Homo sapiens: one gene and its partners. Each later gene encodes a partner of the first gene's protein in a complex. Each region holds a gene or a part of one and is shown on either strand. Other genes may lie near its edges.

What was found.
Region 2: SCNM1 (region 1) and SNRNP40 share a complex: the UniProt entries of both Homo sapiens proteins name them as parts of the minor spliceosome.
Region 3: SCNM1 (region 1) and BUD13 share a complex: the UniProt entries of both Homo sapiens proteins name them as parts of the minor spliceosome.
Region 4: SCNM1 (region 1) and SF3B2 share a complex: the UniProt entries of both Homo sapiens proteins name them as parts of the minor spliceosome.

Annotation. Positions count from the first base shown.
Region 1 is NC_000001.11:151,161,305-151,169,143, reverse strand, and holds the start of SCNM1 (sodium channel modifier 1), read right to left. Parts: upstream 3,001-7,839; 5' UTR 2,992-3,000; coding exon 2,941-2,991; exon of another isoform or gene 2,892-2,940; intron 2,674-2,891; coding exon 2,603-2,673; intron 2,211-2,602; coding exon 2,122-2,210; intron 2,024-2,121; coding exon 1,926-2,023; intron 1,819-1,925; coding exon 1,730-1,818; intron 1,001-1,729; coding exon 806-1,000; intron 159-805; coding exon 59-158; 3' UTR 1-58. Other genes in the region: TNFAIP8L2-SCNM1 protein, read right to left, coding at 59-158, 806-1,000, 1,730-1,818, 1,926-2,023, 2,122-2,210, 2,603-2,619; LYSMD1 (lysM and putative peptidoglycan-binding domain-containing protein 1), read left to right, coding at 3,886-4,065, 7,044-7,408. UniProt on the Homo sapiens protein: As a component of the minor spliceosome, involved in the splicing of U12-type introns in pre-mRNAs. Plays a role in the regulation of primary cilia length and Hedgehog signaling.
Region 2 is NC_000001.11:31,259,053-31,265,804, reverse strand, and holds the end of SNRNP40 (U5 small nuclear ribonucleoprotein 40 kDa protein), read left to right. Parts: intron 1-4,172; coding exon 4,173-4,276; intron 4,277-5,683; coding exon 5,684-5,733; 3' UTR 5,734-6,237; downstream 6,238-6,752. UniProt on the Homo sapiens protein: Required for pre-mRNA splicing as component of the activated spliceosome. Component of the U5 small nuclear ribonucleoprotein (snRNP) complex and the U4/U6-U5 tri-snRNP complex, building blocks of the spliceosome.
Region 3 is NC_000011.10:116,748,963-116,755,993, reverse strand, and holds part of BUD13 (BUD13 homolog), read left to right. Parts: intron 1-7,031. UniProt on the Homo sapiens protein: Involved in pre-mRNA splicing as component of the activated spliceosome. As a component of the minor spliceosome, involved in the splicing of U12-type introns in pre-mRNAs.
Region 4 is NC_000011.10:66,062,348-66,069,378, reverse strand, and holds the end of SF3B2 (splicing factor 3B subunit 2), read right to left. Parts: intron 6,371-7,031; coding exon 6,263-6,370; intron 5,980-6,262; coding exon 5,837-5,979; intron 5,752-5,836; coding exon 5,650-5,751; intron 1,434-5,649; coding exon 1,334-1,433; intron 1,232-1,333; coding exon 1,046-1,231; intron 706-1,045; coding exon 634-705; 3' UTR 71-633; downstream 1-70. UniProt on the Homo sapiens protein: Component of the 17S U2 SnRNP complex of the spliceosome, a large ribonucleoprotein complex that removes introns from transcribed pre-mRNAs.

The DNA of each region.
Region 1 (7,839 bases):
GAAAGTTAAGTTCTCAGCACCCATTGTAATTTATTTGTGAATGAATGGGAAAAGGGTATCAGTCCAAGGGGAGATCAGGTGGTTCCTCCTCATCAGAGTCAAACTCAACATTTTCATCTTTTACCCATCGACCTCGTCCATCTGGGATCCATCCAGAGCTGGAAACATCAGAGAAAATAGCATCGATCAGGAAAGAGGCTTATTAAGAAGTTAGTGGTGAGCTCACACCAGTAATCCCAGCACTCTGGGAGGCCGAGGCAGGTGGATCACTTGAGGTCAGGAGTTCGAGACCAGCCTGACCAACATAGTGAAACCCTGTCTCTACCAAAAAAAAAAAAAAAAAAAAAAAAAAAGTTAGCAGTGAGAAAAAATTGAGAGCCATGTAAGTTGGGTGGCTAAAACAAAACGAAACCAAAGATGGAAAACAACAATGGGAGTCCGGGTGCGGTGGCTCACACCTGTAATCCCAACACTTTAGGAAACTGAGGCAGGTGGATCACCTGAGGTCAGGAGTTCGAGGCCAGCCTGACCAACATGGAGAAACCCCGTCTCTACTAAAAATACAAAATTAGCCGGGCGTGATGGCACATGCCTGTAATCCCAGCTACTCGGGAGCCTGAGGCAGGAGAATCGCTTGAACCCAGGAGGTGGAGGTTACAGTGAGCCGAGAGCGTGCCATTGCACTCCAGCTGGGGCAACAAGAGTGAAACTCCATCTCAAAAAAAAAAAAAGGAAAAACAATAGCTTTGAAACAAGGGTGTCAGAGAGAAAAGAAAATCTGAGGAAACTGATTAGGCATACTCACCTTCGAAGGGTGAGATAATGGTCCAGGGCTCGTCTTCTTGTGGGGCTCATGGGTGCAGGGGCTGAGACAGTTGCTGACTCCTCGGCCTGTGGGCCAGCCGCAGGTTCAGGTTCCCTACTGATCTTCCCACTTTGGAGTTTGACCTCTGAGGGTGGCATAGGGGAAAGGGAGACAGAGGGACCAGGGGCTTCTGGTCTAGGTAGAGAAGAATAGTCTGTAAAAGCAGTAAGGGAAAGGGCCAACTCTCCTATGACTCCCAACCTCTTAAAACAGTGCTTCTTAAACTATATTTCTCAAGATATTAATAAGTTCTGCATACAAAGGATTTCAGAATCATGAATTTGGGAAAGGCTAGCTTAAAATTTTACAAGTTTTTTTTAATCTTAAGACTTTGTATAGTTTTTAAAACTGTTATTCTTCAAGTAGAATTACAAAGTGCCATTTCCCAAACTTTATTTAAAAATCACAAAATTCTCCTTTTCTTTTTCTTTCTTTTCTTTTTTTTTTGAGATGGAGTCTCACTCTGTCACCCAGGCTGGAGTGAAGTGGTGTGACCGTGGCTCACTGCAACCTCTGTCTCCCGGATTCAAGCAATTCTCCTGCCTCAGCCTCTTGAGTAGCTGGGATTACAGGCACACACCACACACCCAGCTAATTTTTTACATTTTTGGTAGAGACAGGATTTCACCATGTTGGCCAGGCTGGTCTTGAACTCCTGACCTCAAGTGATCCACCCACCTCAGCCTCCAAAAGTGCTGGGATTACAGGCGTGAGTCACCGCGCCCAGCCAAAATTCTCCTTTTCTTGAAACACTAAGTAACATCTCCAGAACACTAGTATTCCTCAGAATACACACTGGAAAACTCTTTTAGAGCCATCTGTCTCCTTCTGAGCCTTCCTACCTCTGGCTTTCCCGTCCCATACCTGTACTTCCGGCGGCAGCAACTGTTATAGTGGGGAGCTCTGTGCAGAGCACTCTGGGTGATAAGTCGTGTCTGAGTTAGCAGAGGAGCCTGGTAAGGAGATGGGAGACAGAGTCAGAGCCTTCAGCCCTCCGCCCTTCCAGCCTGGTGTGTGCAGCAGGGTCTTGCCTAGAACACACTCTCCACTCTCTGATTACCTCAGCTTTGGTTTCTTCCCTTCTCAATTCATTCTGATGTTTTGGATTCTGCTTTCTTTCCTTTCCCGGCTGCTTCTTGCCATAGAAAAGCTGCAAGCCTGAGGAGAAAGGGAAACAGAATTAAAAGCATAGCACCAAGAGTGGTGTGCAGAGATTTCGAGGGTTTATTCCCCATCCCGTCTTCCCCCTAACTTACTGGACAGATGTTTCTTGCCTGCACGGTGGGCAGTCAGCATGGCCAGGGTGTCCAGTACCGGTCGATGGGGGCAGATGGCACAAGCAAAGCTGAGCAGGGGTAGAGAAGAGGATAAGTGGTCCAGGGGAAGAGGGTTGGGCCCGTCCCTGCCATAGGTCCCACCCTGTCCTAGCAGTCTTTGCAAAACCCAACTCCCTGGTGACCCAATCTCCACTTCTTCCAGTCCTCACTGGCCGCCAAAGAATCCTAGGTACTCCTGCTGTCCTAATTAATAACAAAAGTTTGTTGAAGCCAGGCGTGGTGGCATGCGCTTGTAAACCCAGCTAATCGCGACGCTGAGGAGGCAGGATCACTTGAGCCCTAGAGTTCGAGGGCAGCCTGGGCAGCACCGCGAGACCTCCGTCTCAAAGGAAAAAAAAAAAAAAGTCTATTGAGCCTCTAACCGCAGAACCCTCAGGCTTGAGCCACTCCTTGCTCTTACCGTCCATCCCGAAGCATCAGCGCCTCATCCTCTGGAATGTAACTGGCTAGGAGGTCCCCGACTCTTCTTTTCTGCAGGGAGTAGGGGAAGAAATCCGGACGGGATCAGCGGGATAGGAGAGAGGGGTGGAAGTGAAATTATAGAAATGAGGAGTGAAATGGAATAAGGACCCTGGGGAGAACAGCGATCATAGACCGAAAAAGGAGTCACTACACAGCTCTAAGTCGCCTGGTTCTCTCCTGCACCCCCGAGTTGTTGCCAGAGCAATGAAACAAAGCTCCTTCCCAACCTTCAGGGAGCGACTGAAGCGGCTCCAGATCCTCTCCGCTCACGCTTACTTTGAGCACATTGAGTTGACTCCAATCGTCTCCTTCCCTCTTGAAAGACATCACGACTGTGAGTCCCAGAAGTGATAAATTCTCTGTTCCGGTTTCGCCACTCCTCCAGGCCACCGTAGCAAGAGCGGGACAGCGCCTTCTCTTTTTTCCTTCTCTTCCTGTCGGCCTCCGTACTTCCGGGGACGCACTTCCACGCATGCATTGCGCGATCCGGAAATCCACTCTCTGGTGCTCGGAGGGAACTGCATTTCCTATGGTGCCCTGCGACTCCGCAGACGCGGAGCCTTTTGGGAAATGAAGTCTTTTCTCAAAGACCTTGCCGCTCAACTGGATCCAGGCCCTTGCATCTTGGCGGATCTGAGGCGTTTGGAGGGACAACAACCTAGATGTGGAGCCGAAATTTGAGGGTGTGACCTATCTTATGCGGAGCGGACCTTTGAGGATCTCTGAGTGGAAGGTGTACTACAAATTCTTGCAATCCTCACGCTCTTCGTCTGCGGCGACAGTTCACCTGGGGTGGGCCTGATTTGTTCCTGACTCTAGCAAACAAACCCCGGGACCGGGGAGAGCTGGGATGTTGGAGCGCCCTGAGGCCAGGCTACTTGGGGGCAAACTGAGGAAAGAGTGTTGAGGATTATTTCTAGAGTTCAAAGGTCAGAGGTCAATGTAGCGAGGAGTTGTGGGGGAGTCCAAAGTCGGAGGGGTGCTTAGGGGAGAATTAGGGAGGGACTGAATACTCAAGGGACAGATTTGTGGATAAGTAGCTTGGAGGGAGGAGAAACCGGGAGGGGGCAGATGGCGTAGTGCTGGGGAGGCGGGGACACAGGGGAAGAGAGAGGGGGAAAGGAATCCCCTGAATATTCATTCCCAGACTTCAGGCCTGTCAGTCGCAGTCTCGGTCGTACCTCCCCTAGTTGCAACCTTAGCTGTTGGCAGGGTGAAGAGATGGCTTCCCCGTCTAGACAGCCCCCGCCAGGGGGGTCAGGACTGCTTCAAGGGAGCCGGGCTCGTTCATATGGAAGCCTGGTGCAATCGGCCTGCTCCCCAGTGAGGGAAAGACGCCTGGAGCATCAGTTGGAGCCCGGAGACACCCTGGCTGGACTAGCACTCAAATATGGGGTGACGGTGAGTTTTCCAGGATTGGGGTGAAGACAACAGTCAGGAGGGATTTAGTCCTGAGAAGAATGTAGTGGCCCTTCTAGGTAACCTCCCCTGAAATGTTCCTAATGTGTTGCACTCTGTTCTGCCTTTATCTTTGTTTTCCCATCACAGTGTTGCACAAGTCCTGCCCTACTATTCCAACGGAGAGGAACAGCTCCTATTTTATTATGCCAGACACTGTGCTGAGGGCTTCACATACGTTAGCTCATTTCACCCTCACATCTGTATCAAGTATACATTTATCGTTCCCTTTTGGCAGATGAAGAAACTGAGACTTGGATTGGTTAACCAGTTTGGCTAAGGTCAAATAATGAGCGTCAGATTTGGGATTCAAACAGGTCTGTCTGACTCTATTAACCACACAGAAAATTTTATGTTGAGAGTGATTAAACGTTTACAGCAACTAATGGAGAGCTGATTTTTAGTTCTCAGTTCCTAAAGTGCCCACCTCTCCTTGCTCTTGGTTCCTCCTCAATGCTCTGCCTTCTTTCCAGTAAGGTGGCCTCCTTTGTGCAAAACAGGTACTCTACACCAAGTATTTCAGGTCATGCATGGGGGAAATTGGATAGATGTAAAAATGTACAGCATTGAAGTTGATGGGGTTACTCCCCCTATCCCTGCCCCTGTTTTCTTGTTCCATCTCACTCAAACAAATGTTGAATTTAGCCAACATTTTTATGCTTGCTGTATTTAAAGCACTGTGATAACTTTTCTGGGAGATAGAAACTTAAACTATATGGTTGCTGTCCTCATGTAATTTATGGCCTAATGAGAAATGAACAGGGACACAAATAATGATTACAAGTGACAGAATGTGGTGAGTTTGTAAAGGTATTAACAACGAATAGGGGTCAGGCATGGTGGCTCACCCCTGTAATCCCAGCACTTTGGGAGGCAGAGGCAAGTGGATCACCTAAGGTTACGAGTACGAGACCAGTCTGGCCAACATGGTGAAACCCTGTCTCTACTAAAAATACAAAAATTAGCCGGGCGTGGTGGTGCTCACCTGTAATCCCAGCTACTCAGGAGGCTGAGGCGGGAGAATCGCTTGAACCCAGGAGGGGGAGGTTGCGATGAGCTGAGATCGCACCACTGCACTCCAGCACTCCAGCCTGGGCAACAGAGTGAGACACACACACACACACACACACACACACACACACAAAGATAGGAAATCAGAAAAGATTAAATTTCAGTTGGAAAGGGGCTGTGGTGGGCCAGGCGTGGTGGCTCATGCCTGTAATCCCAGCACTTTGGGAGGCTGAGGTGGGTGGATTGCTTGAGCTCGGGAGTACAGGACCATTCTGGGCAATGTGGTGAAACCCCATCTCTACAACAAATACAAAAATTAGCCGGGCATGGTGGCATGTGCCTGTAATCCCACCTACTGGGGAGGCTGAGGCAGAGGATCACTTGAGCTGGGGAAGCGGAGGTTTCAGTGAGCCGAGATCGCGCCACTACACTCCAGGCTGGGCGACAGAGTGAGACCTTGTCTCCAAAAAAAGAAAGAAAGAAAGAAAGAAAATACGAATACACTATATCTGTAGTTTCTATATTTCATTATCTAATTATGATAATAATTACATAATTATAAGTAATAGTTTTTAAATAAAGCATTAATGAGCCCCTGCTATGTGTCAAGGTCTGTAGGATGCTAATGACTTCCTGGGGATACAGAGACAGCAAGTCACAATCCTTGCCCTTAAAGGACTTATAGGGTTTAGGCAAAGCAGATATTTAAAGAGGTGAATAATATTATAGTAGGGTTATGTATTATTATAGCAATATTTACAGTATGCATTGGGAGCCCTGAAGAAGGTAGCACAAAGGGAGTGATAGTTGATGAATACAAGTTTTCCAAGCAGAGAATGGGATAGTAGGGGGGTGGGAGCATTTCAGGCAGAAGTAACAGCATGAATAAAGTGTGAAAAAGATCATGGAATGTTCAAAGAAAAATAAAAAGTTCAGGATAGCAAAATGTAGAGGTGGCAGAGGGAGATTAATCTAGACATTTCCTTTGGGAGCTGGATTGAGAAAGCCCTTGAATGCTAATTTGGTTTTTATCTTTTAGCCAGTGCGGAGCCATAGGTGGGTAGTGGGTTAATCAGATTTATTTTTTTAGAAAGATAGATGCCAAGAGGAGGATGAGTAGAAATAGAGCGAGGAAGGCCAGTTAAACTGTTGCAATAACCCCAGATGAGAAATACTGAGGGTCTATTTTAAATCTTTGGCAGTAGGAAGGTGAGACCAGATGTGAGAGAGATTTTTGAAGCAGTTTTGTTGACCACTTGGTATGGTGATGAAAGGCAAGTATTAGTTAAGGATGACATTGATGTTTCTACCTTGGGAGGCCAGGCAGATAGATGGTGATGCCAGTCACTATGTCCAGTGATGAATAAATAGGTCAAAATAAATATTTATTAATGACATTGTTAATAGTATAGTGTGAAAAGCATTCTCAGAAGCAGTGAAAAGACCCAGGATTGTCATTCTAGCTCTGTCATTAACTTGATAGATAATTTTAGGAAAGTAGCTTAACCTCTCTGAGCCTCAGTTCCTTCATTTTTATTTATTCATTAATTTATTTATTCATTTATTTTTAATTTTTTAATTTTTAGAAATGGCGTCTCACTATATTACTCAGGCTGGACTCTAATTCCCGGGCTCAAGCTATCCTCCCTCCTCAGCCTCCTGAGTAGCTGGAATTATAGGCATCAGACATTGCGCCTGGCTTGCACAATAATTTTTTAAAATGTAAGGGGGCCCTAAGACCAAAAAGTGTGAAAACCACTCATCTATAGAATAGAAATAATGTCAGCCCTTTGTACTTTAGCTTGGTTGTTATGGAATCAAAGAAGACTCTGTACAGTCACTTTAAAAAGCTCAAGATGTAAGATTGATCATTATTACTGTCCTTAATTTTGGTGACTTTTTTTTTTAAGATGGAACAGATTAAACGTGCAAACCGCCTTTATACTAATGACTCCATCTTCCTGAAGAAAACCCTCTACATCCCCATCCTGACAGAGCCCAGAGACCTGTTCAATGGTTTGGACTCTGAGGAAGAGAAAGATGGAGAGGAAAAAGTACACCCAAGTAACAGTGAAGTTTGGCCACACTCAACTGAGAGGAAGAAACAAGAGACAGGAGCAGGACGTGCCAATGGTGAAGTCCTCCCCACACCTGGCCAGGAAACCCCCACGCCCATCCATGACCTCTCTGCCTCTGATTTCCTTAAGAAGCTTGATTCACAGATCAGCCTGTCCAAGAAGGCTGCTGCTCAGAAGCTGAAAAAAGGGGAAAATGGGTGAGTCTTGAATGGTTCCTTATAAGTTCCTCCCTAGACTCCTCCATCATTCCTGTCTTACCTAACCACAAACACAAGTAAGTAAGGACAGTGCCAACAGAGGCAAGGTGATACCTTTCCCCCATGTGGCCCCAAGATAATGAGCAGAGGTGATGGCTGCTGGCCTGGGTAGAGGCAGTGGAAAACTGGGTTCTGTGTTCTTATTGGAGTCAGACAGTTAACTATTTTTTTTTTTTTTTGAGACGGGGTCTTGCTCTGTTGCCCAGGCTGGAGTGCAGTGGCGCGATCTTGGCTCACTGCAAGCTCCGCCTCCCAGGTTCACGCCATTCTCCTGCCTCAGCCTCCCGAGTAGCTGGGACTACAGGCGCCCGCCACCACGCCCGGCTAATATTTTGTATTTTTAGTAGAGGCGGGGTTTCACCATGTTAGCC
Region 2 (6,752 bases), about 120 Mb from region 1:
GCAGTGGTGCAATCTCTGCTCACTACAAGCTCCACCTCCTGGGTTTACACCATTCTCCTGCCTCAGACTCCCGAGTAGCTGGGACTACAGGTGCCCGCTACCACGCCTGGCTAGTTTTTTGTATTTTTAGTAGAGATGGAGTTTCACCGTGTTAGCCAGAATGATCTCAATCTCCTGACCTCATGATCCGCCTGCCTCGGCCTCCCAAAGTGCTGGGATTACAGTCATGAACCACTGCACCCAGCTGTAATTAAATTTTTAAATTATATTTACATACTTTTTTTTTCTGATGAGCAGTTTGTTTCTGGCATTGGCCCTTTCTGAATTGCAATGTCCTTTTTTTCTCTTTTCCTCTCCACTGTTCCTTTAAACTTTACATGTGGTCAATGGTGCACACCTTTAATCCCAACACTCTGAGAGGCTGAGGTGGAAGGATGGCTTGAACCCAAGAGTTCAAGACCAGCCTGGGCAAGATGGCAGGACCCTGTCTCTATAAAAAAAATATTTAAAAAATTAGCCAGGCATAGTAGTGTGCACCTGTAGTCCCAGCTACTTGGTAGGCTGAGGCAGAAGGACCCCATGAGCCCAGGAGTTTGAGGATATAGTGAGCTGCAATCATGCCACTGCTCTCCAGCCTGGGCAACAGAGCAAGACCCCATCTCTTTAAAAAAAAACAAAATCACATGTGAAAGCGTGGTATGAGGAAAGCCTATCCCTCTCTACCTGCTGGGGGTTGGCAAGATTTGACAGGCCACCTCACCAATTGGCCCCAAGTCAAGAAGCAGCTGTGTTACATAAGGCTTCTGGTTCCTGCCAAATGTTGCCATGCCAAAGTAAGGAGAGGGCAAGGAACCCCTCTAAATTTAGCATCTAATTGGCAGCCATCAAGAGTGAGACCTTGAAGTGTAAACCCTTGGAGATCTGGGATTCTGTCTTTTATGTGCCTGGGAAATGTATCCTCAGAAAACTCCTTTTCAGCTTGGCCTGGATTTGGCAAACTTCTCCTTTCTACTAACTAATAACTTACAGATCACCTCCTCATATTCAAACTTGAAACTCTGAATAGTCCTATAGGCTACGGGAAGGCTGACCAGTCTCTCGGCCAAGAGTGATTTATTCAGCCCATTGACTTCATGAGATTCTGTTTTGATGATGAGTGTACTTATAATAACAATAGCTATAATTAATTCTGTGTGCCAGGCACTTTGCATATATTACCTCATTATTTTTCTCAACAAAGTTATGAGATCAATATTTTCTCCATCATTGTAACTAAGAAGCTTAGAGAAGTTAAATGATCTGCAATTATTTAACTTCTCTGAGCTAAGCTTACTTAGCTAGTAAATAGCTGCACTGAGACTTGAACCCCAGTCTTTCTGACTCCAGAGCTCATACTCTTTCACTATGCCATACTGCCCTTTATTGAATTAATGAGGACCAGCTTTTTGTGCATGACAAGAAAGAAGACAGTAGGAAGGGCATGAGTATCAGAGCCATGGAGTCTAGACAGATGGAGTTCCTGCTTCTCTTCCATCTTGTTCAGAACTTACTTTCTATGGAGCCTAGCTGATGACAGCTAAATAGTATAATTAAGAAGCTCTTGTTTATTTGCATTTTTGACCAAAAGTGTAAGTTGGATTAGAACTAGGCATTTTATAATCCAGTACTGGTGAATGTACCATTTTTATGATCAAGTACTGGTGAGTTGTTGATTGCACAAAACAAAATATGTAAATAATTTTAAATACCTGCTTCAAAACTACCAGCCCTTTATATTTACCAACAGATGAATTTTACATCATCAGATTAAGATAATAGCTCTATACTTTACCCTTTAATGACTTAAGCAAGATTGAGGGTCAAAGGAACTTTTTTTTTTTTTTTTTTTTTTAGCCAGTACATTTATGGAGGGTAAGTGAAAGTAAAATACGAGAGTATATTAAGAGCTCCAGAGTCTTGGGTTCAGCTCTGTAGTTTCTGTGGCTACTGAAGAGGTGGTCAGGAACATAGGAACCCCCTGCTGGGCTCCTGGTCACTTCTGTCTGCTCCATGGCAGGAAACCTTCAGCACAGGACATCAAGGCAAGCTTGAATAAGAAAAACAATTTCTTCTTCCTAAGCCATATCATATCAGTTATACAGAAGTACTACTTTGGGACACAGTCTTCAGGAGAGCCTAGATGAGCTCATAAAATCTCAGCAGTTCACTCAACTTGCCCTTCAAGTTTTACTTCAGTTTGATAAGGCTATAAAGTCATCATTGGCTCAGAGGATTAGGAACAGAGTTGATTTCAGGGGCTCTCTAAATACATACAGATTGTGCCATATGCCACGCATGGTGGCTCATGCCCGTCATCCCAGCACTTTGGGAGGTGAAGGCAGGAGGATTGCTTGACGCGAGGAGTTCAAGACCAGCCTTAACAACATAGGAAGACACTGTCTCTACAAAAAAAAAAAAAAAAAATTAATTGAGAAAAACAAAAAGATTCTGTGATAATATGTAGACTTTTGTGAAAATTATGGCCTGTGATGATAAAAATACTGGCTCTAATACTATAGAATGAATAAGGAAAAAATCACATTTTTATGACATCTTCTGTTATTATTCATCACTTTTGAAGAGAAATGTAGAAGTTTTTTTTTATTTATTCTAGCATTGCAGAAAGTACATTGTGTTATTTCAGTATTTCAGTAGTATTTCAGTAGTATTCAGAGTATTTCAGTAGAAAGAAGCTTAAAACTCTATAGCCTCTTACATTACCTTTATTATACAGCATGAAAAAAAACATAATTTTTTTTTTCTTGAGACAGGATCTCACTCTGTCACCCAGGCTGGGGTGCAGTGGTGCCATCTCAGCTCACTGCAGCCTCTACGTGCTGGACTCAATCAGTCCTCCCACCTTGGCCTCCCAAGTAGCTGGGACCACAGGCATGCACCACTACACCTGGCTAATTTTTTTGTAGAGATGGGGTTTTACCATGTTGTCCAAGCTGGTCTCAAGCTCCTGAGCTCAAGCCTTGGCCCCCCAAAGTGCTAGGATTACAGATGTGAGCCACCATGCCCAGCCTCATAATTTTTTTTAATGACAAATAAAAATTTTGTCTTCCTAAGAACATTCTCTAATAAGCTCTTTTTTTTTGAAGAGTTCTAATTTTAGTTACGCCGTTGATGAACTGTATTGCCTTGGAAACGTCACTGTGCCCCAGTTTTCTTATCTCTAAAATAAGGAGTTTAGAGAAGCTGATTTCTTTTTTCTCCTCTTTTTTTTTTTTTTTTTTTTTTTGGAGATGGAGTCTCACTCTGTCACCCAGGCTAGAGGGCAGTGCCACGGTCTCAGCTCACTGCAACCTCCACCTCCCAGGTTCAGGCAATTCTCCTGCCTCAGCCTCCCGAGTAGTTGGGATTACAGGCACACGCTACCACTCCTGGCTAATTTTTTGTATTTTTAGTAGAGACTGGGTTTCACCTTGTTGGCCAGGCTGGTCTCAAACTCCAGACCTAAGACGATCCACGCACCTCGGCCTCCCAAAGTGTTGGGAGTACAGGCATGAGCCACCACTCCCAGCCTAGACAAGCTGATTTCTCTTGGCCCCTTCCCATTCTAGAATTCAGTATTCCTTCTGCCTGTTAATTCAATGGAAAAGTTGGCTCAAGTGAGTATTAGGTTAGCAAACACTATAAATATTTTATATACCAGACACTTCCTGTCCCTTCTCAGGTCTCTGTTTGAATACAGTACTAAAAAGTTCATCTGGATCAGCAGCCTAGGCTCCCACCCTGCCATGAGTTGGGTTACCTTTTAGATTTCCTGGATGAGTATGAAGTTAACTGTAGCCTAATTATACTAGACACTCTGAAAAAGGTTTTTGTGTGATGTCTGCAGGAAAAACTTTCTTTTCTTCCCTGTGGTGTTTCCCATTTCAGAAGCTTGTATTCAAACATGCCAGTCATGCTTATATTTTTAGTTATTCTTATTTCTCCACCCCATTGCTCAAGAGGTGAGTCCATGTCTTATTCAAACTCTGTGTTCCTAGTTTCTAAAAGCCAGAACATGGTTCAGTAAATGTAAGGTAAGTAAATAATTGTTGCTTCCATTTCCTTTAAAAAGCCATGCCTCTGTCCTACCCCCAGCTCTAAGAGGACTTACCCTTGCTTTTCATGATACCTTACAGGTTTGTTTATGTGTGGGATACCACAAGCAGGAGAATATTGTATAAGCTGCCCGGCCATGCTGGCTCCATCAATGAAGTGGCTTTCCACCCTGATGAGCCCATCAGTAAGTCTGTCCCAACGAGGGGGAAAGGGAAACTGGAAATCTCCCCGTAGGGATCCTGGGAATAGAGAGTCAAAAGCGGGTATCTGTTTTATACGAATTTCCATGCAAACAGCCTTTGGGTGTTTTTGTTGTTGTTGTTGTTGGTTTTTTTGTTGTTGGGTTTTGTTTTGTTTTGTTTTTGAGACAGTGTCTCGCTGTTTTGCCCAGGTTGGAGCAATGGTGCAATCTTGGCTCACTGCAACCTCTGCCTCCTGGGTTCAAGCAGTTCTCCTGCCTCAGCCTCCCAAGCAGCTGGGATTACAGGCACCCACCACCATGCCCAGCTAATTTTTTTTTTTTTTTGTATTTTTAGTAGAGACGGGGTTTCACCGCATTGGTCAGGGTGGTCACGAACTCCTGACGTCCAGTAATCCACCCGCCTCAGCCTCCCAAAGTGCTGGGATTACAGGTGTGAGCCACTGTGCCCAGCTGCAAACAGTCTTTATGTGGGTATCAATGTCAGTCTCACCATTGCTCATAAGTGGTGAGAGTAAGAGCAATGCTCCATTTTCTTCTTGATCTCAAAGGGAAGTTGGTAAGTCTAATTTTTTTTTAAATTTACTTCCATCAAGTCTGTTTCAATGATGTATTTGATTAAAAGAAAGATACTTTTTTTTTTTTTTTTTGAGACAGAGTCTCACTCTTGTCGCCCAGGCTGGAGTGCAGTGGCACGATCTCGGCTCACTGCAACCTCTGCCTTCCCAGGTTCAAGCGATTCTCCTGCCTCAGCCTCCCAAGTAGCTGGGACTACAGGCACCCACCACCACACCTGCCTAATTTTTGTGTTTTTAGTAGAGACGAGGTTTCACCATGTTGGCCAGGCTGGTCTCAAACTCCTGACCTCTGGTAATCCACCCGCCTCAGCTTCCCAAAGTGCTGGGATTACAGATGTGAGCCACTGCGCCCGGCCAAGAATGATACTTTTTAATATTTAGATATAAATTTCAGCTTAAAATTTTTTGGCTGGCTAAACCAAATAATTTCAGCCTTGAATTAAAGGAGAAACTGTAACTTTCTCCAGGGCTAAGTATAACAAGCAGAAGCACATTTACAAAATGACTGGCACAGCCATAGATTCCTCTCTTCTAGAATGACTGGGAAAGTCTTTTTCTTGGGGTTTGACTGACAAGGGATGTCAGTATTTAGTGTCTGATAATGTATTTCCCATAGTACAGTCATCCTCATGATATTAGAGGACTTGGATTGAAAAGCCAGGCTACAATTTCCTGTGGATGGTGTTTAGGAGGGGAATTTAAGCTAAGTCCAATTGCTCTTTTATACCAGAATTGGCTCTTGACACAAGAGCCCTTGAGCACCAAGTCTCCTTGAGCCTTCATTATTTCTAGTTATCTGTTCTTTTTACCTCAGTTATCTCAGCATCGAGTGACAAGAGACTGTATATGGGAGAGATTCAGTGAAGATATGGACTGGAAGACTCCAAGGCCGCTTGTCTTTGAGACCTCAGACTGCATAAGTGATGCCAAATGTTGGATGTCCAGGCTAGCACCCTCCCTTCAGATGACCATTGCTAGCAAGAAACAGGAGGCGGTGGCCATATTCCAAAAACCACTTCTGTCCCATTTCACCAGGATGACTAAGGCAAGCTCCCTGTGGCCTCTAAAAACCACCTGCCAGATTTCAGGGACTGTTTTTTTTTTTCTTTTTCTTTTTTCCTGTTTTCTAATGCAGGCCCAATGTGACAAATTTGTTGGTTGGGATTTTTTTTTTTTTTTTGTAACTGGCTTGTATGATATTTTCTTTCTGTATTTCTCTATATCATTTTGTATTAAAAGCCAAATAGATGCCTTTTTACAAGAGCCATGTGGATTGGATTTATTGCTGTCTTTTTTTTGAGGCTTGATTGCTATAAATCAGAATAGAGCATGATGTGGCCACAGAATACAATTCATTTAAACTTCCAAGAAGCTGCTCACTTGTTTTTTTTTCCCCCCTTTTCTGTGTTTTTAGGTTTACTTACTTCCATGAAAATGACAAAGAATAATTATCAGTAACAATACTTTTTTCCTACTAGAAGGATAGCAGCCAGGAGGTGATAAATAAGTTCTAAAAGAACCTGGTTTTGCCAGACGCGGTGGCTCATGCCTGTAATCCCAGCACTTTGGGAGGCCAAGGCAGGCGGATCACCTGAGGTCGGGAGTTCAAGACCAGCCTGGCCAACATGATGAAACCCCGTCTCTACTAAAAACACAAAAATTAGCTGGGTGTGGTGATGCACATCTGTAATCCCAGCTACTCGGGAGGCTGAGGCAAGAGACTCACTTGAACCTGGGAGGCGGAGGTTGCAGTGAGCTGAGATTGCGCCACTGTACTCCAGCCTGGGCGACAGAGCAAGACTCTGTCTCAAAAAAAAAAAAAAAAAAGAACCTGGTTTTGTGTACTTGCATCTGATCTTTAATGAACAGAGCCCGTATTTACT
Region 3 (7,031 bases), on another chromosome or scaffold:
TCATATGATTGTCTGCCTCGATTTCCCAAAGTGCTGGGATTACACGCTTGAGCCACCGTGCCTGGCCTACGCTCTTAAAAATTACTGATGACCTCAAAAAGCTTTTGTTGATGTGGATTATATATATTGATATTTACCATATTATAAATTAAAACTCAGACATTTAAAAAGTATTTATTCATTCAAAAAAAAATAAACTAATTATGTTAACATAATTACTGTATATTTAAATGAAAAATAATTACATTTTCCAAGTGAAAAAACAGAAGGATGGCATTGATTTACATTTTTGCAAATCTCATTAATGTCTGACTTAATAATAGGTAACTTGACTCTGTATTTGTCTGTTGTGATTTGTTCAGTTGAAGTATAGAAAGAAAATTTAGCCTCACACATAGGTAGTTAGAAAGAGAAGGCATATTATATTTCTTAATGTTACACAAAAACTCAACAAGTGCTGGTTTCTTAAAGGTGAGCTATGTGGAACCTGAAACCAGATCAAAGAACTTTCCTTACTGTTATATTAATTTTTTTAATACTTTGAGTGGATCTTTTACCCATGCATGATTTTATAACATCATGCATTGGTCATTTGTAAAATATTGGTTTGCTGAGTTGTTCAGACCTTCCAAATGTTGACATATTTCCACTATACAATATCAGAAAATCACTTTTGTTAACATCACTTCCGGTCTTATCACAAAACTCTTTAAATAATGGGAAGTTAAAGAGTTCACAGTTTTTCAGAATTCTAATTTACACTTGAAAGTTTAAATGTTATCACTGGCATTTCCATTGCTTGAGCTATTTCCATTTAATAGCTTAATTTCTCTGCTGAGATTTCCCATCTGTTCATTATGAGATATTTTCCTCTTCTTGAAAATATTTGTGATATGTAATTGGTGCTTTGAAGTCCTTCCTGTCTGTTAATTGCAACATTGGATTCACCACAGGATTGGTTTCTATATTGGCAGCTTTTTCTTCAGTGTGTATTACATTTTCCTGTTTATTTACCTGTCTGGTCACTTTTTTAAATTGTTACTGGACATCATGAATGATATACTGTAGAGACTTTGAGTTCTGTTACACTGTATTGTCAGTTGTTTTCCTTCAGGTAAAGCTCACTTTGTACAATAGCTTTTTATAGATTCCATCAGATTTTGTACCTAGAGGGTCTTCCATCTTTGCATACAGTTTAATTTCTTACTTTACAATCTAGATGCTTTTTGTTTCTTTTCCTTGCCCTGTTGCATTAGCTAGCACTTCAGTGCAGATGTTGAATAGAAGTAGTGAGAGCAGACATCTTTGCTTTGTTCCTAATCTCAGGAAGAAAACATTTAGTTTTTACAACACATTTATTAAATGTGTTGTAGCTGTATAGGTTTTTTGTAGATATCCTTTATGGAGTTAAAGTTCCCTTCTATTCCTGTTTTGCTGAGAGTTTTGTTTTCAGGAATGTATGTTGGATTTTGTTCAAAATATTTTCTAATTATCCTTTTGGTTTATTCTTTGCTCCATGGGTTATTTAGGAGTGCATTAATTCCAAATATTTGGACTTTTCTAGATATCTTACTGCTATTTACTTATAATTTAATTCCATTTTGGTCAGATAATATACTGTAATATTTTGATCTTTTGAAATTTGTTGGCCAGGCACAGTGGCTCATGCCTGTAATCCCAACATTTTGGGAGCCCAAGGCAGACGGATTGCTTGAGCCTAGGAGTTTGAGACCAGCCTGGGCAACATGGCAAAACCCTGTCTCTACAAAAAAATACAAAAATTAGTCGGGCATGGTGGCACACGCCTATAGTCCCAGCTACTGTGGAGGCTGAGGTGGGAGGATCACTGAGCCCAGGGAGGTCGAGGCTGCAATGTGCTGTGATTGCACCACTGCACTCCAGCCTGGATGACAGAGTGAGACCATGTATCAAAAAACAATAATAAAAATGAAATTTGTTAAGGTGTGTTTTATGGCCCAGTGGATAGTCTATCTTCTGAATGTTTCCTTTGCACTTGAAGAGAACGTATATTCTGTAGCTATATAAGGTAGTGTTTTATAAAAGTCAGTGAGGTCAAGGTGTTTAGATCTTAGATCGCCTGTATTCTGGGTTTTTTGTGTTTGTATTTTTCTATCAGTTACTATCAATTGTGGATTTTTTGTTTTAGCTGGTTTATTTTGTTTTTCAACTCTAAAATTTCCATTTAATAGCTTACATTTCTCTGCTGAGATTTCCCATCTGTTCATTATGAGACATTTTCCTCTTCTTGAAAATATTTATGATATGTAATTAGTGCTTTGAAGTCCTGTCTGCTAATTGCAACATTGGATTCACCACAGGATTGGTTTCTATTGACAGCTTTTTCTTCAGTGTGTATTACATTTTCCTGTTTATTTACCTGTCTGGTCACTTTTTAAAATTGTTACTACGCATCATGAATGATACACTGTAGAGACTTTGAGTTCTGTTACACTGTATTCCTCTTAAGTGTGTTAGTTTTTATTCTAGCAGGTAGTTAACATAGCTGAACTCCAAACTGTCTCCTTTGCAGTGGACGGCAGCTACAATCTTTGCTCAGTTCTTTTAGTTTCTAGCTGCCATTTTTTTAATTGGCCTGATGGTATTTTCTCTGCACATGTGTCATTTAACAGTTAGCCAAGGATTTGACTAGGGTTTGTATGTAGATTTTGAGGTTCATCTCTTTTGTAGTTCCTTCTCTTCCAAGATTTCCCCCCTAATTTCCTAGCTGTTCTGCCCACTTTGCACTAATTCCTCAAGCCAGTAAGCCTGTGGCTTTCTGCCTTCATGAGCCATGCTGTTTGGGAAGTTGCCCTCCAGCAAATCTCTTTTCACATATAGACTTCATCCAGTTCATACTTACTTTTGGTCACTCTTCCACACCTTCAAATACCTATTTTTTTTGTTTTGTCTAGGTTTTATAGTTGCTAACTGAGGATAGGTTAGTCTGTTCGGGTTACTCTGCAATGTCTAGAATCTGTCTCCCCACCTTATATGGGCCTAAGGCGTTGTCTTCTGTCCCTCGGGGTGCCGTCAAAATCCAACAGCCAGGTGTGGTGGCGTGTGTCTGTAGTACCAGCTATTTGGGAGGCTGAGGCAGGAAGATCGCTTGAACCCAGGAGTTTAAGTCCAGGCTAGGCAACATAGTGAGACCCCAACTCCAGAATAAAAAAATTTAAGGCTCTTCTTTCTGATATTGGCAGATATCTATAAGTTGACTGTAGTTCCTCATCTTGGCAGATATCTTTAGGGTAGCTGTGGTTACAGGCTAGCTTACTAGTTCCGTTTGCAGTTCACTGTATGTAGGCTTTTTGGTAGAAGGAGGATTTTTCAGAACACTCATTTGCCATACATACAGCCAGAAGTAGATCTTTTTATAGCACAACCCTACAGATGTTCCCTGCTACCGAGTTTTTGTTTTTTGTTTTTTAATTTTTGGACCCAAAACTTAGAATTCTCCCTGACCTAGTTTTTTTTTACTAGTATTTAATTTGTCTTCATTTTTCTCAGTTGCTTTTTTCCACTTCTTGTTCTGATTTTATCCTAGATTTCTTCTCTTATTTCCCTTTGTCACCCTTGCTTTCTTTTTGTTATTCATCTTTCATCATCTTTTCTAGTTTTGTCTCTTTTCGGCCTGCTGCAAGGGAATATTTCCGGAACAGATATATAGTATCTGTTGGAAAAACCCATAAGATAATTACCCAGCCTCTCTTAATTGAAAGAGAAACGGGGCCGGGTGCGGTGGCTCATGCCTATAATCTCAGCACTTTGGGAGGCCGAGGCGGGCAGATCACGAGGTCAGGAGATTGAGACCATCCTGGCTAACATGGTGAAACCTCGTCTCTACTAAAAAAAATACAAAAAATTAGCTGGGCGTGGTGGCGGGCGCCTGTAGTCCCAGCTGCTCGGAAGGCTGAGGCAGGAGAATGGCGTGAACCCGGGAAGCGGAGCTTGCAGTGAGCCGAGATCGTGCCACTGCACTCCAGCCTGGGCAACAGAGCAAGACTCCGTCTCAAAAAAAAGAGAAACTGAGGCCCAATAAATAAGCAGTTTGCCTAGAGTCATGCAATTTCCCTGAGAAAGCTGGAATTAGAACTCTGCGTTCCTGATTCTCTGGTCCAAAGCTCTTTCCACTGTGAGTTCTCCTGCAATTTGTTTTCTGATTCTGCTTAGGATTTGGTGTTTGTTATTCATATGTCCTTTGTATTATCATATTAGTGTAACTCTCTTAAGACCTTATTTCCAAGGTAAAAAACAGTGGTTTCCTTGGTGCTTTGGAATACCATCCATGCTTCTAAGGTTGGAGAGGATGCCATTTATAATAAGCTTCCCTTCTTTTTTTTTTGAGACGGAATTTCGCTCTTGTTGCTCAGGCTGGAGTGCAAAATGGCACGATCTTGGCTCACTGGAACCTCCGCCTCCTAGGTTCAAGCAATTCTCTTGCCTCAGCCTCCCGAGTAGCTGGGATTACAGGCGTGAGCACCACGCCCAGCTAATTTTTGTATTTTTAGTAGAGACAGGGTTTCACCATGTTGGCCAGGCTGGTCTCGAACTTCTCATCTCAGGTGATTCACCTGCCTCGGCCTCCCAAAGTGCTGGGATTACAGGCGTGAGCCACCATGTCCGGCCAAGCTTCCCTTCTTAAAGCCCTCTGTTACTCACTCCACTCATCCCTTAAGGGAAAGTCTTAGCATACATGTTATAAGTGTAAGCAGCTAGGTAGTAGGTACTAGGGATTCCATGATTAAAGAGAGATAGCCCCTGAGCCCAGGAGCTCACTTTCAATCTAGAATAGAAGACAGACAGTTTCAACGCTGTTTGGTTAGTGTTACTATAGAAGATTTTCAAGATGTTTTGGGAGCACAAAGGAAGAGTAAGTTGAGCCTTAGGAGGATGTGAGTGATCAGGAAGTGCTTCCTAACGGATGAAATGTGGGAGCTGAGTTTTAAGGGATGTTGGTAACCAGCCAAGATAAGAAGGAAAGGAAGGATATTAAAGGAAGAGGGTCCTATATGTGCAGAGTCATAAGGCTATGAGACACCATGGTGTTACCAGGTGGTGGGGGTCCCTAAGTAATTTGCTGTTGTTGGATAGCATAAAGCGTGAGATGGATGAGAGAGGTTGGCAGACCGTGATCACAGAAGGCCCTGGAAGCCTATCTGAGGAGCTTGGTCTTCACCCTAGAGGTAAAGGGGAGACACGGAAGGATTAAAAACAGCTCTGCATTTTAGATAGACAAATCCATTATAGCAGTAATATGAAGGATTTGAAAGGTACAAGATTGGAAGTAGAACAGATACAAGGCTTTTGCAGTAGCTCAGGCTGAAAGTAATGAGTGTCTGAACTACGACTTGCAGGCAGTGGTAGTAAGGATGGTTAGTAAGAGAATAGGAAGTGGGGATGTGGTCAGGGGTGAGCTGGTGGGACCTGTTTGCTGATTTGGGGAAGAGGAAGGAGGAGTCATTGGATTTGGCAACAAGGAATGTCAGTGATGACCTGAAAGGGCTAGTTCCGTTGTGTAGTGAAACAATGGCCAGGTTCTAATGTATTAAGGAGTGAATGAAAAGTGAGGAAACAAATAGTGAATACAGGCTTTTTAAGAAGTTTAGATAAGAAGACCAAGAGAATGCATGGTAATTAAAGGGATTTGAGGTCCACTCACTACCTCCTTGAAATTCACCCCTGTATTGTTTTCCATGACACCCTACTCCTGGTTCTTTTCTCTGATCATTCTTGGCCACCTTTGCAAACTCCTCTTCCTCTGTGCACCTCTTAAGTCTTTCCCAGGGCTCCATCCATAATTTTTAGCTGTTCTCACTCTATGTGCTCCCTCTGGCTGATTCTTACCTAGTCATGTTTTCAACTATGACCTATATGTACATGATTTCCAAATCAGTATTTGCATCTTGGTCTGGTGTATTTAGCTGTTTGTTGGATTTCTCTATTGATTTAGACTTGAGAGATTTCAAATGCATTGTATTCAAAGCTGAACTCATCAGCTTCTACTGTAAGCCTGCTCCTACTCTTGTGCTCTCTAACTTGCCTCCTCCTTCTTTGTCCTTGTGTACCTAATCAATTAGTGCTGCTAATTAGTCTTACTAATTTTGCCTCCTGTGTCTTCTCTCTTCCGTCCCTCTTTATCATTGCCTTCATCATCTGTTGCCTGGACCATTGCAGTGATTTTCCTGCCCCAGATCCCCTCCAGAGTGATCTCTTTGAAATGCAGTTTAAGTTCTTGCTTTAAACCCATCGTTTCTGGATGAAATCTAAGCTTTTTACCATGGCCTACGCAGCTCATTATGCATTGGCCTCTGCGCCTTTCCAACTTTGACTCATGGCTGTTCCCTTTGTCATACTTCAGGTTCCAGCCATACCAGTTTGCCTTTGGTTTGCTGCACATACCAGGCCACTTCTTATTTCCGTGCCTTTGTTCTTGTTGCTCATTCTGTTCTGAAATGACCTCCAGACCCTTTCTGGCCCTTCCATCCCCAGTGCTGTAGTTAACACAGAGCCTTTACTGATCATTCTTGCCCAACCCTCATGTCACCTTTTTATCATACCTCCCCCAAGCTGATTAAGATACCCATTCTGTTTCCATGACACCCCATGCGTATTTCTACCAGAGTTTATGCTGTTCTTTTAATTTATTTGTTTAAATGTCTCTCTCTTCCACTAGTCTGGGAGTTCATCAGGACAGGTGCTGTGTCATACTCATTTTCATGTAGTGTCTACCATGGTACCTAGTATATAATGAAAATTCAATAAATGTTTGTGTAATGAATGGATAAAATATAAGATGTGGACATCAGCTGAGAGAGAACCAGGCTTTTAGAGTGGCAAACGTTTGAAATAGCTGTCAGAGTGGGGGAAGGGTGTGAACAAGGACTAAGAAAAGGATGAATGATATATTTTGTCCCTTTGATTCTATTGCATATGCCTTAAATATTTTCTTTTCTTTTTTGTTTCTTTCTTTCTTTTTTTTTTTTTTTTTTTTTGAGACAGAGTCTCTGTCA
Region 4 (7,031 bases), on another chromosome or scaffold:
AAGTCCCCCCATCCCACATACAAATCCCAAACCCCAGCGACTAGTGTTGCTTGAACCCAAGGGTTCATATGGACTCAAGACAATTTAGCTTTTGAGCTATGTTGTCGCACAGGTAAGGACTTGAACTTCTGGTCACAAGGTCAGTTGGGAAGGCCTGCCCTGGCCTACTTCCCAAGCCCACTGTTACTTCCTCTGCCGCGCTAGGGCGCTAATCTGGCTATTTTTACTCCCCAAGGACAAAGTAGTAAGGTCAAACCAGACCTAGAGGTACTTCCCCCAAGCCTTCCTACAAAGCAGGGCAGTGGTGAAACACAGATTTCAGCCTGGGGTTGGCGTCACCACCAGTCAAATGCGCCGTCTAATCCCAGTTTATGTTCGTGGTTACTGGGGCAGCCCAGTGATTGTAGAAAGAGACTATTTTAGTCCTTTTGCAAGAAGGGGCTAAAAGGAGATGAGGGAGGCTCAGGAGTGTTAAATATTCATCTCTTTCCTTGGGAAACAGCTTTATTTACAAAACAGGTCTAAAATAAGAACATGAAATGACAAGTCCTTGGGAACTGCGGGAGAGGTGGTTCTTGTGTGAAGCCCAGGCATCCAGACGTAGGGCCAAAAAAAGGGCTAGTGTGAGGGGACCTAAAACTTGAACTCCTTATATTTCTTGCTGCCCCCACGGCTGTCCTGGGGCTGAGCTTTCCGTTTTTTTTGCTGTATAGGGAGAAAGAGACACAGGTTAAGACAGGTTGAACCACCCCCGGACCCCCAAAACAAGGGTGGGCAGCCTGACATAGACATAGAAGTCTGTGGGAAAGGCGCTGAATCTGAATTCTCTTCGAGCTCCCTCTCAGACTTGGCTGAGTTCCTCCCCCTCATCGTCCTTAAAGAGGGCAGCCCACTGGAGGATTTCTAAGACTTCCAAATCTAAGGAAGCACAGAGCAGCAAGCAGAGGCCACCCTCACTCTCACCACTAGAGGGCACCATGCCACTGAAAACGGCAGGCCAGGGTCCCTGGCTCTCACCCAGCCCAGCGCCCCTGGAAGCGCCTACCTTCTGTTTGGCAGCGTGCTCAGCCACCATGTCACTGAAGTCCTCCTTCTCTACTTGAGCCTGCTGCTCCCGCACATGCTCCTCATACTTCTGGGTCATGGCCATAGGATCCAGCTCCAACTCTTCAGGCGCCAGCGCCACTTCCACACCTTGCAGCTCAGGAGCCGGGCCCTTCCGGCTCATAACCTGGAAAGGAGATCAGGGCCTGGTCATCTCCAAAGAGTCAGAGAAGCCCTAGCTTCTGCTGCCTTTCTCAGCCTCCAAAAGCAGTATCCTCCAAGTACTCACCGTGGACATGTCATAAATGTGGGTTGATCCCATCATGGCCCCTCCAACAGTGGCTGTTCTCTTCTCTGGCAACACAGTGAAGAGCTGAGGTGTCTCACTTCTGCGAAGGACAATGGGATCAGGCCCAAAAAGCAAGGGACAAAAGGGTCTCCAGAAGCGGAAACAAAAGATACAGGTGGCACCTCCACTCAGCGCCTTGGAGAGCTTCTGAGCTCCCCAAGGATGCAGCCTCTGCAGTTCTGCCCATGACAGAAAAGAATTGGGCGGGGGGGTGGCACAGTGCTGACTCCAGGGAACACAGATGGAGCTAAGGGGCCCCCTGAATCAAGTCAAGGGATCACAGACCAGGACTCCCACATGCACATAAGGGTCAAAAGGTCAGAGAGGCTCAAAGTTTCCAAAAGAACTTTGGTACAGAGAAGCTGGCAAGATAGAGCAGGCGACAACAGTTCCCACCCGAAGAATGTCATGCCTGGAGTTCTCATGTATGTAATTCACACTTCCAGGCCTTCCAACGCAAGAGCCATCCACAGCCAGTTTCACCACTAATTTCAAGGATTACACTAGGAACAAGAGCAAATCTACCACTATCACCCCAGACTATGCCCATCATCTCCACCTCTCCCGCTGGAAGAGGTGACAATCTATTGTCCACACAGGAGCCAGAGAAAATACCTTAAAACGGATGTCGGGTCCTGTCAGACCTTTGCTCAAAACCCTCTGAGGCTTCTGATCATTATCTGAATAAAATCCAAACTCCTTACCATGACCTAAAGGGTTCATAGCCTGGTCCCTTACCCAAGCCCTCCTCACTATACTCTGTCCACAGTACCCTTCTTTATTTTTCTTCCTTGAATATGCAAAGCTTGAGACTTCTGCTTCCTGACAAGGAGCAAGAGGAACCAGATACACCCTCCTGCCTGAAACAACCAAAAAAAATGGGCAAAATATATGAAACAGTGGTTTTCAAGACACTACACATGGGGCAACAAAGCACAGTGATTCCTGCGAGACAGGAAACAAATGTGATGAGCCCTTCAACTGCCCCAGCATACCACACCTGAGAGTTTGCAGGCCACAGAACAGAGGGGAGACTCATGGAGAGCCCTGAGGACTCCGTGAGTTGGGAGGATGAAACTGAAAGTCCAGGGAGATCAAGGCAGCTAGAGTTCACAGGATAGAGTACTGGAGAAAAGAGCAGAGAGAGAACTCGAGACCTACAGAAGGTCCTCAAGTATGCAGGGGAGTACTAAGCAGCACATGCCTACCAAGGACAGGGAAAGAAGCACCCAAAAGGATTCATAACAGCAACTGCTGCTCACTCAGAACTGGGAATAGAGTAACTCCCACTAGCCAGCCGGAAAAACCTCCTGATTCACAGGGTGGTGGGTAGAGTACACAGGTACTTGTGCCTCACAATGGGGAGGACTGCTTCAGTCCTGCCTCAAGAACCCCAAAACAAGACCTGAAAGGATCAAACTATCTCCATATAACTATATTCCCGAATGAGCTGAAGAAAATGTACAGGAATACAAAAATATCTTGGACCCAACAAGGTAAATTTCACAAAGCCTAGCATTCAATAAAAAATTACCAGGCACTGGACAGGCCTGATGGCTCACACCTGTAATCCCAGCACTTTGGGAAGCTGAGGCAGGATGATTGCTTGAGCCCAGAAGTTCAAGACCAGCCTGGGCAACACAGTGAGAACCTCTCTCAAAAAAAGAAAGGAAAAGAAAAAAAAATTACCAGGCGTGCAAAAGAGTAGGAAAATACAATCCATAATGAGGAAAATGAATCAACTAATGGCAGTCAACCCAGAAATGGCACAGATGTTAGAGTTAGCAGACAATACATTAAAATGTTGTTATAGCCAGGTGTGGTGGCTCATGCCTGTAATCCCAGCACTTTGGGAGGCCGAGGCAGGCAGATCACCTGAGGTTAGGAGTTCAAGAACAGCCTGGTCAACATGGTAAAACCCTGTCTCTACTAAAAATACAAAAAAATTAGCTGGGTGGGGTGGCGCACGCCTATAGTCCCAGCTACTTGGGAGGCTGCGGCACAAGAATTGCTGGAACCTGGGTGGCAGAGGTTGCAGTAAGCCGAGATCACGCCACTGCACTCCAGCCTAGGCAACAGGGCAAGACTCCGTCATAAAATAAAATAAAATAACATAAAAATAAAATATTGTTATAACTGCATTCCACATGTTCAAAAAGTTAAGAGAGAAAGAATAGATTTAAAAGACCCGAAATCAAACTTCTAGAAAGGAGAATTATATTGTATGGGATTACTGTTAGATCAGAAATTACAGAAGAAAATAATAGTAAACTTGAACATATAGCAATAGAAATTTTCTAAAGTGAAATACAAAGAGAGAAGAATTTCTTTAAAAATGAAGAGCATCAGTGAGCTCTTCATTTATTTTTTCATTTATTATTTCATTAATAGAGGAATAATTTGAGTTCCCAAAGGAAAGAGAAGGGAACAGAGAAAATATCTGCAGAAATCATGACAAAATTTTCCCCAAATTAATAAAAACTAAAAACCCAGATCTAAGATGCTTAAAAAACCCCAAGCAAAGAAACATTCAGAAACTACACCAAGGCACATTGTAGTCAAATTGTTAGAACTAGTGATAAAATCTTAAAAACAGCCAAATAAAAATGACACATTATGTACACAGGAACAAAGGTAAGAATGACAGCAGTTTTCTCACTAGAAACAATGCAAGAAAGAAGACACTGGAGCAACATCTTAAAAGTACTGAAAGAAGGCTGATGCGGTCACTCACACATGTAATCCCAACAAGCTGGGAGGCCAAGGCAGGCGGATCACTTGAAGCCAGGAGCTCGAGACCAGCCTGGCCAACATGGCAAAACCCCATCCCTACTAAAAATATAAAAATTAGCTGGGTGTGATGGTATGCACATGTAATCTCAGCTACTCGGGAGGCTGAAACAGGAGAATCGCTTGAACCCAGGAGGTGGAGGTTATAGTGAGCCAAGATCACACCACTACACTCCAGCCTGGGCGACATAGCAAGATTCCATCTCAAAGAAGAAAAAAAAAAGTGTTGAAAGAAAAAAGATTGTCAACCTAGAATCCTAAACCTGGCAAAGATCTTTCAAAAATGAAGGCCAAATAAAGAATTTTTAAGACTACTCAAGCAGAACAAATTCAAAACCAGCAGACCCACAATACAAGAAATGTTTTTTTAATATTTTGTAGAAATGGGGTCTCACTATGTTGCCCAGGCTGGTCTCAAATTCCTGGAATCTAGCAATCCTACCACCTCAGCCTTCTCCCAAAGTACTGAGAGTACTGAGATTACAGGCTTAAGCCACCACGCCCCCTAACTTAAGAAATGTTAAAGGAAGCCCTTCAGGCAGAGGAAAAATGATATCAGATAGAAACCTGGATATACACAAAGAAATGAAAGAAACAAAAATGGTAACTACATGGCTTCATGCATGATTCTTATTTAAACCTCCCTAAAAGATAACTGACCATTTAAACAAAAATAATAACTATATAGTATAGGATTTATAACATATGTAAAAGTGAATATATGACAATATAGTGCAAAAATTGGGAGGAGAGAAATGAAGTATACTATAATGGCTCTTAATACTATCTGGAAGCAGTGTAACATCAAGAGAAGGTAGATCCTGATAAAGACATGATCTATAAACCCCAGAGCAACAACTAAAATAACAAAGCAAAAACTTAACAGCTAATTAACCAACACTGGAGATAAAATGAAATCATAAAAATTGTTCAAGTAATCCAAAAGAAGGTAGAAAAACAGGAAAAAGGGAACAAAGAGCAGAATGGATAAAGAGAGGGTCATTTCATGATAAAGGGGTCAATTCATGAAGACCTAACAACACTACACATTCAACTACCTAAAAATGGAGCTTCAAAATACTAGCCCATCCCTGTCTCAGTGCCTTTGCACTTGCTTGCATTTACTGTTACTTCTGACCCAGATGATCCTGTGGCTGGCGCTTTTTCATTCGGGTCTTAGTTCAAGCACCACCTCCCCAGTGAGGCCTTCCCAAAGGCCTCCCTGCCACCCCATCCCATTACCCAGTTTCCTCTGCTTCAACATCCTTATCTACATCTGAAAGTATCTTGTTCTCTGATTACCAGTTTACCTCAACTGCTGACTCCTCACTGCCTACAGTAGTGCCTGGCAGAGAGTTGGTTCAATAATTGTTTAAAAAAGGATGAGGGAGAAAGGAACAACAGTCAGCCAGCCAGCCAAAGGGAAGTGAAGGTCCTCCCCTCTCAGCCCTGTCTGGTACCCTTACCCGTCCATCGCCTCCTCAATCTTCTTCTTCCTCAGCTCAATGAGTTCAGGGGTCTCCATTCCAGCAGGCACTGATGAAAAGCCTCCAGGAGTGATAAGGCCACTGTAAAGAGAGGAACAAGCTCTGGAGTAAAGAGAAGGACCCCAAAGATAGCCCACTTCCAAGAGGCATTCTCTGCTTCCCCCACCTGTCTGCAGGGGTAATAAAGCCTGTCTCATCTGGTTTGTCTTCATCACTTTCTTCCTCTTCCTCTTCTTCTGAGGATTCTTCATCAGATGGTTCCAGTTCCCCCCAAGGGGTCCGATCAATCTCTTCTTCCTCAGTCTTGGTCTGAAAGAGATCACTTTATCATTCAACAAATGTTTTCTAAGTACCTATTATGTGCCAGGCTGTTTTAAGCTGAAGGGGTGTAAGAGTCAAAACACAATAATCCCTACCTACCTAGAGCTCAAATTCTAGTGAGGAGCTTACATTAACATCTCAGGAAAATGTATGCCCTTTTCCAGGCTCTGCTGTGTCAGAACACACAACTCCCTGATAATGAAGCTATAAACCAACAATCTAACCTTCATGACATTAAGTAAAACCAAGATCGCTAGTACATGGCCCATACCTGAAATTCAGCAGCATTGGTTCCAAACACGTCCCCATAGAGCGGTTTCCCAGTCTCATCCACTGGAGGTTTGCCCCAGCCACCAGCATGGTACCCAAAGGAACAGCTCTGCAAGACAGTGAGCACAATCAGTTCACTCCTTAGCTGCAAAAGAAATTCTGAAGCCCTAGAGAAAAGGCACACTCAAAAGTACAGAGCTGATACTTGGGAACTCCGGAAATTATGACTGCAGAATTAAATCAAATGTTATGAAGCATTAGAAACCAAAATTAATAAACAACTAAAATCTGGAGGCAACAGGATAAGGAGACAGGAGGCAGAAAGTATGCTAATAACTTCTGTCATGGCAGAGTCTTTACTGTCTGAAACCAAAATACGTACATTGAAAACATGACTTCAATTTCTTATTGAGTTTTCCTAACTTTGGAAAGCTAGCTTGTTCAGAATCTATTTATCTTAAGGGGCAGAAATTTCTATCTAAAATTTAACAATACTACTGTTTTACTTTAATGACTCATCAATTTTTTTAATGCTTATTTTAAAATAAGAAATTTGAAGACATTCTTGAGATAAAATTATTTCTGAGAGACTGAAGTGAAGCTAAAAAAAAATTATTTCTTTTTTCTTTTTTTTTTTTTTTAAAGTAGAGGTGCGGTTTCACTATGTTGCCCAGGCTAGTCTTAAACCCCTGGCCCCAAGGGATCCTCCCACCTCAGCCTCCCAAAGTGCTGGGATTACAGGTGTTGAGACACCACATCTGGCTGAGATA